2 linked regions of the Homo sapiens genome follow. The main gene of each other region encodes a partner of the protein of the gene in region 2 in a complex. Each region holds a gene or a part of one and is shown on either strand. Other genes may lie near its edges.

Evidence for each region.
Region 1: KAT14 (region 2) and TADA3 share a complex: the UniProt entries of both Homo sapiens proteins name them as parts of the ADA2A-containing complex.

What each region holds. Positions count from the first base shown.
Region 1 is NC_000003.12:9,782,357-9,786,179, forward strand, and holds part of TADA3 (transcriptional adapter 3), read right to left. Parts: intron 3,070-3,823; coding exon 2,960-3,069; intron 1,858-2,959; coding exon 1,672-1,857; coding exon of another isoform or gene 1,668-1,671; exon of another isoform or gene 770-1,667; intron 753-769; exon of another isoform or gene 656-752; coding exon of another isoform or gene 625-655; exon of another isoform or gene 1-624. UniProt on the Homo sapiens protein: Functions as a component of the PCAF complex. The PCAF complex is capable of efficiently acetylating histones in a nucleosomal context. The PCAF complex could be considered as the human version of the yeast SAGA complex.
Region 2 is NC_000020.11:18,154,650-18,158,472, reverse strand, and holds part of KAT14 (cysteine-rich protein 2-binding protein), read right to left. Parts: intron 1-3,823. UniProt on the Homo sapiens protein: Component of the ATAC complex, a complex with histone acetyltransferase activity on histones H3 and H4. May function as a scaffold for the ATAC complex to promote ATAC complex stability. Has also weak histone acetyltransferase activity toward histone H4.

The sequences.
Region 1 (3,823 bases), on a different chromosome or scaffold from region 2:
GCCTTTATTTCCTCATCTGGTAAACAACGAAAATAGCTCCTCCCTCCTGGGTTGTTGTCAAGACACTTGAGAGAGTGTACATAAAGCCCCTGACACACAGTAGGCCCTCAGCATACATTAGTCACTCTTATCCTTAAATACCCTGGCAGCTTGTCAGCAACTACCTCTCCTTTTAATGGCACTTATCTTTACTGATCATCTGCTAGTAATCTGCAAGTCCCTTGCTCTGCCTCTCTTGCTGGCCCCCAGCACAATATCTAAGAGACAGTAAGAATGGCCAAATGATTAGCCTGGCATGGTAGTGCATGCCTGTAATCCCAACTACTCAGGAGGCTGAGGCAGGAGAACTGCCTGAACCCGGGAGGCGGAGGTTGCAGTGAGCCGAGATCATGGCACTGCACTCCAGCCTGGGCAACAGAGTGAGACACCGTCTCAAAAAAAAAAAAAAAAGGCCAAATGAATGAATGTGCCCTGTCCTGTCAGGGCTCTATGAAGTTAAGACACAGCACTTGTCTGTGAGAAGCAAAGAGACTTGTTCGGGTTGCTTCCCTATCTCTTTACCTAAAGGGTAGCTATTCCACAGTCTTCCTCAAGATGTCACCTATACCCTCGTGATCAATGCAGAACAAGATGGATGGGAGTTGACATCAAATGAATGGCAGGCACTGTGATGGATTCCCAAAAGAACATGTCCTAAAACACTGGTCAATTTCTTGTGATGAGCAAATAAAAATCACAGATCTCCAACAAAATGTTAACAGTTAATTAGTCTAGGTGGAGAATATACTGATGTTTATTGTATGATTCTTTCAGATTTTCTGTGTGTATCAAATTTTTAATAACAAAACTTTGGGGATAAAAAGAAAAGAAGCATGAAAAGACAAAAAATAAATCACACAACAATGTGAATATGGGTAACACTACTAAACTGTACACTTAAAAATGGTTAAGAAGCGTAAATTTTTTTTCTTTTTTTTTTTGAGATGCAGTTTCACTCTTGTTGCCCAGGCTGGAATGCAATGGTGCAGTCTCAGCTCACTGCAACCTCCGCCTCCCAGGTTCAACTGATTCTCCTGCCTCAGCCTCCCATGGAGATACATTTTATATTATGCCTTTACCATAATTAAAAAACCAAACTAGGCCAGGCGCAGTGGCTCACGCCTGTAATCCCGGCACTTTGGGAGGCCGAGGCGGGTGGATCACGAGGTCAGGAGATCGAGACCATCCTGGCTAACACGGTGAAACCCCGTCTCTACTAAAAATACAAAAAAATTAGCTGGGCGTGGTGGTGGGTGCCTGTAGTATCAGCTACTCAGGAGGCTGAGGCAGGAGAATGGCATGAACCTGGGAGGCGGAGCTTGCAGTGAGCCGAGATCATGCCACTGCACTCCAGCCTGGGTGACAGTGCGAGACTCCCTCTCAAAAAAAAACAAAACAAAAACAAATCAAATCAATCGGTCAGTCACAGATGCCTGAGCCCCACTCTGTGGAATCAGAATTTGTTTGGGACATACCCGGTGGACTGGCCACTGCTGTTTTTTTCGAGGCTCTCCAGGTGATTTAGAGGCCAGCCAGGATTGGAAAGCCTGTTGTAAAACCCCTGAAAGGTGACTAGCCGTGGCCACAGCCTCCAAGGCCACCCCCGGGACTGTGCATCCTGCTAACGCTCACCTCAGCAGGTCGTGCTTCTTGGTGCGGTTGTGGGCACTAAGTGCCTTCAGCTCAGCCTGCCGTTTGCGAAGCTCAGCAAGGACCTCATCCTCGGAGTCCTCTGCGGGGCGGTCCTCAGACTCCAAAAGGCCCTGGGCAATTAGCTCCTCCTTGATGCGGCTCTCCAGGGACTTAGTATGCGGCACACTGCAGCGGGAGGCAGGCCCGTCAGACTCAAGAGCCAGCTTGGAGAAGGGCCCACCTTGGAGGTTCCCAGGGCTTCCCAAGGTCAGTGAAAACCTGCCTTTCCCTTTGGGCACCCCCTCTGTATCTATCCAGATACAAAGGGAGGGACAGACACATCTGGTCTGGTTTTTAAAACAAGCAACGTATGTATCTACTATTCAAAAAATATGGAAAAACCCATAATGCCAACAACCCAGAGAGAATTACTATTATTTTGTTATATATTATTATATATATTCCAGATTTTGTTATATATTATTCCTAATCTTTTGCTACATATTAGTCCAGGTTTTTTCCCTTATGTGCACATATTTAAATATATTGTAAGTAAGCCAGGCATGGTGGCTCACACCTGTAATCCCAGCACTTTGGAAGGCCGAGGTGGGAGGATCACCTGAGGTCAGGAGTTCAAGACCAGCCCGGCCAAGATGGTGAAACCCCGTCTCTACTAAAAATACAAAAATGAGCCATACATGGTGGCAGGCGCCTGTAATCACAGCTACTTGGTGGCTGAGGCAGGAGAATCGCTTGAACCTGGGAGGCGGAGGTTGCAGTGAGCCAAGATTGCGCCATTGCGCTCCAACCTAAACGACAAGAGCGAGACTCCATCTCAAAAAAAAAAAAAGAAAAAGAAAAAAAGAAATATATTTTAAGTAAAAATAGTATTATACCATCCATACTGGGCTACAACTAATATTTTCTCCACTTGTCACTCTATAATTTACATCTTTTCATGTCATTTAACTATATTTCTCTATACTTGCAGCTATATGATTAATAGCCCCAAGTTATTTCATCATATGGAGTTATGCCAATTTAGCCAACCATTCCCCTTCAGCAGGACATTTGGGTTATTTATGGTATGAACAGTTCTGTGCTGAACAACCCTGCACTCAGTCTGTGCATGCAGACACGCTGGGTCATCACTCACACTTGAGACTGCTATTAGGCTTCACCTAACTGCCCCCAGCCTCTTACTGATGAGGACTTCCCCAGGTTGAGATGGAGAGAAGCCAACAGAAGCGGGGGCCAGACTGTGGGTTGTGGATAGGACACCACTCACCTGAAGGGCTTGTTCTGATTGCGAGGGGAGGTGCTTGCCCCGTCAGCCCCTGATTCTTTCCCAGACATGTCAGGAATAGGAGAATCCTCCATAGGGGAAATAATATTTTCCTAGAAGACCACAAAAATGAGTGGAAGGAAAAATAGCTGTTCCACTTTCCTGCTCCTTTCTGACCTACACTGACAGTCTTCAAACACCAGAAATATCCTTTTATCTTTCCCATCCCACCTACCGTGGGAAGCCTTCCCATACCAATCCCAAATTGCTTTGATCATTCTAGAAATCCCTTTTATTTTCGTACTGATGTGAAGAAAAAGGAACACAGAAGAGAAATGATTAACACTCAATGATGGTAATGAACAGCTAAGGTTTGTGAAGCGTCTGCAACGCACCAGGCAGTGTGCTAGGCCTGCTGTGGCGGAGATGCTAGCTGTCCGAATGCCATACTCTTCTTTCCTCCACGGCAGCTAGGCAATGCCTGTCCAGTTGTACTTCCCAGGCTCTCTTGCAGGCGGGTATGGTCATGTGACAAGTTCTCTCCAGGGGAAAGTGATCAGAAGAGATAAGAGCCATAGCTAGGCATGGGCCAAAAAGTTTCCTTCACACACTCCTCCTTGTTTTGTTTTGTTTTTTTTTTTTGAGATGGAGTCTCACTTTGTCACCCAGGCTGTGGAGTGCAGTGGCACAATTTCGGCTTACTGCAAGCTCCGCCTCCTGGGTTCATGCCATTCTCCTGCCTCAGCCTCCCAAGTAGTTGGGACTACAGGCGCCTGCCACTATGCCCGGCTAATTTTTTTGTATTTTTAGTAGAGACGGGGTTTCATCATGTTAGCCAGGATGGTCTCGATCTCCTGACCTTGTGAT
Region 2 (3,823 bases):
TTCCCTAACGGAAATTCTTTCAAGGCGACTGTTCTATTTCCACCTTGAAAAGATACATCAATCCCCGGAAATCCTAGAAGACAGTCTTTCACAAGAAGACCAGTCTAACAGTTGGAAGGTATTGCTGGGAAGGCAAAGGAAAACCATTCTGAGGAACAGAGACGTAATATTAATAGAAAACTCAGAAAATAAACAAAACAAATAAGCTCAGCTATAGTAGGCATAAGCACTATCTGAGGCTGGGTGCGGTGGCTCACGCCTGTAATTCCAGCACTTTGGGAGGCCGAGGCGGGTGGATCACCTGAGGTCAGGAGTTCGAGACCAGTTTGGCTGACAGGGTGAAACCCCGTCTCTACTAAAAATACAAAATTAGCTGGGTGTGGTGGCACATGCCTGTAATCCCAGCTACTCGGGAGGGTGAGGCAGGAGAATCTTTGAACCCGAGAGGCGGAGGCTGCAGTGAGCCAAGACTGCACCATTGCACTCCAGCCCGGGCAACAAGAATGAAACTGGGTCTCAAAAAAAGCACTATCTGAGATGGAGAGAATGAAACCCCCAAGCTTTTGGTTCCAAAGTACCTCTCCTACATTCTTATCTTTTTCTAATCTTTCCAAATCCTCTCTAATAAATACAAAATGTAGCATAAACACATACAATAGAATATTATTCAGTCTTAAAAATAAAGGAAATCCTATCACATACTGCAATGTGGATAACCCTTGAGGACACTTATGCTAAGTGAAATAAGCCAGTCCCAAAAAGACAAATACTGTATGGTTCTACATATATGAAGTATTTAGAGTAGTCAAATTCATAGACACAGAAAGTAGAATGGTGACTGCCTAGAGCTGTGGGGAGGGGAGAATGGAGAGTTATTTAATAGGGATAGAGTTTCAGATCTGCAAGCTGAGAAGAGTTCTGGCCATCTGTGAATCTATATTCAAATACGTGAACATACTTAACACCACTGAACTGTACACTTGGAACTGGTTAAGATGGTAAATTTTCACTGTTTTTACTGCAATAAACAAACAGAAGTCTGGGCAACATAGTGAGACCTCATTTTTACAAAAAAATAAAAATAAAAAAATTAGCTGGGTGTGATGGCACGTGCCTGTGGTCCCAGCTACTTGGGAGGTTGAGGTGGGAGGATCACTTGTGCCTGGGAGGTAGTGGCTGCAGTGAGCCATTACTGTGCCATTGCACTCCAGCCTGGGTGACAGGGTGAAACCCTATCTCAAACAAACAAAAACAATAAAAAAGACTGACAAAGACTCAAAAGATTTTAAAAACCAATGTGTTATTTACTGTGTCGAAAACGGGTGCGTACTTGTACATTGACAGTGGGACTATAAATGGGCATATACTTTCTGGAGGTTACTTTCATAATGTACAGCAAAATTGTGTGTATCCTCTGACCTCGCAAATCTACTTCTAATCACAAAAACACAAAGGATATATATACAAGAATATGCCCCACAAGGCTAACTTAAACACAGAAAAACTGGAAATAACATAAATGTTTATAAAATTATCGGCCAGTGTTACAGATTTCATCGTATCCTCCCAAAAGATGTTGGAAGTCCCAGTACTTGTGAATGTGACCTTATGTGCAAACAGTGATCATGAGGTCATTAAGTTGAACACTAATCCAATATGACTGGTGTCCTTACACAAAGGGGAAACTTGGACACAGAGACAGACGTGTAGAGAGGGAAGATGCATGAAGACACAGGGAGAACGTCATCTACAAGCCAAGGAAGGCCTGTGGCTAACAGAAGCTAGGGGAGAGGCATAAAATACTCTCTCCCTCACAGCCTTCAAAAGGAACCAATCCTATCAACACCTGGATTTCAGATTTCCAGCCTCTAGAACTAGAATACATTTCTGTTGTTTAAGCCATCCAGTTTGTGTTACAGCATCATTAGCAAACTAATATAGCCAGCTAAATCACAGCACAACACATAATGAGACATTTGTATGGAATGGAATAAATTTGTTGCCAGGACATATACAAACACAGTATTTATGAATGGCCTCAATAGTTTTCCCCCAAAATTATTATTGTGGTAAAATATACATAACATTTACTATCTGAACAATTTTTAACAGTATAGTTCAGTGGTATTAAGTACATTTATATGGTACAATCACCACCACCATCCACTTTCAGAACACTTTTCACAGGGCAAAACCGAAACTCTATATCCGTTAAACAACTCCCAATTCCACCCTCCCCGCCAAGTGCTGACAACCACCATTCTACGTTCTGTATCTGTGATTTTCACTACCCTAAGTATCTCAGATAAGTGGAATCACACAGTGTTTGTTTTCTTGTGATTGGTTTGTTTCACACAGCATAATGTCCTCAAGGTTCATCTACACTGCAGCATGTGCCAGAATGTCCTTCCTTTTTAAGACTGAATGATATCCACTGTATGTATATGCCACATTTTGCTTATCCATTCATCTACTGATGGACACTTTGGTTGCTTCCACATCTCAGTTATTGTGAATAATGCTGCTAAAAACATGGATATACAAGTATCTCTGAGACCCTGCTTTCAGTCCTTTTGAGTATATACCCAGAAGTGAAATTGCCAGATCATATGATCATTATATTTTTAACTATTTGAGGAAACACCACACCATTTTCCACAACGATTGTACAATTTTACATTCCCACCAACACTGCAAAAGGGTTCCCATTTCTCCACATTCTCGCCCACAGTTGTTGTTTTGTTTCTTTGATAATTGTCATCCTAAGAGGCATGAGGTGGTATCGTGTTATAGATTTGATTTGCATTTCCCTAATGATTAGTGATGCTGAGCATCTTTTGATGTGCTTATTGGCCATTTTAATATCTTTGAAGAAGTGTCTATTAAATGCCTTTACCCATTTTTGCAATGAGGGGAGCTATAACAACAATGGCTGCCATCTCTTTTCACCTCTATGATTAGAAGCAGCAATCAGTGATCAGAGCACAAATACCCAGTATTTGGAAAACAGGCTTATTTTTGCCCACCCTGGATGCTACAAGCTGTGTGTAAGCCACTCCAGGAACACACACACAGCTTTCTTCCTAGTGGCTGGAGAAGGGGGATGGGTAGCACCAAAAAAACCCCCACCTTTTTACATTTAAACTTTAATAACATATTAAAGGCATAAAAGAAAAACCTGTAAACATCTGAAAGAAAATTCAGAACTTCATTACACTGTATAGCATTCTCTTAGATCTTGTGACAAATGAGAAATGGTTACAATTTTTAAGAATTTAAAGTATGTCCTGGCCAGGTGCAGTGGTTCACGCCTATAATCTCAGCATTTTGGGAGGCCAGGCGGGTGGATCACCTGAGGTCAGGAGTTCAAGACCAGCCTGACCAATAAGGTGAAACCCTGTCCCTACGAAAAATACAAAAATTAGTCGTGCATGGTGGGGTGTGCTAACCTAAATAATTTTATGTACCATTGTAGAAACAAGTTAAAAAGTATATGAAAACTTAGTTATTACTGAATAATTGCCTAGTATTTGTTCATTTAATCTGCTTTTACAGTCCTGGCCTTGAATTCTTCCAGAAGGTATAGTTTTGATTAGTGAAGAATAGCTTGAATATTTTCTTCTACTACCATATTTTACTGATTTTAAGATACGTAATTTTGCAAATTTTGACATCTCTGACAGCTAGATACATCTTATAGTTACTGATATGTCATAATTTAATTGGTAGTTAGCTCTTATTTGTACACAAAATGGTGTATCTTAAAGTTAATGGATCTTAGAATTGATGAAATATGATAGTACACATTCATAGTATCTACACT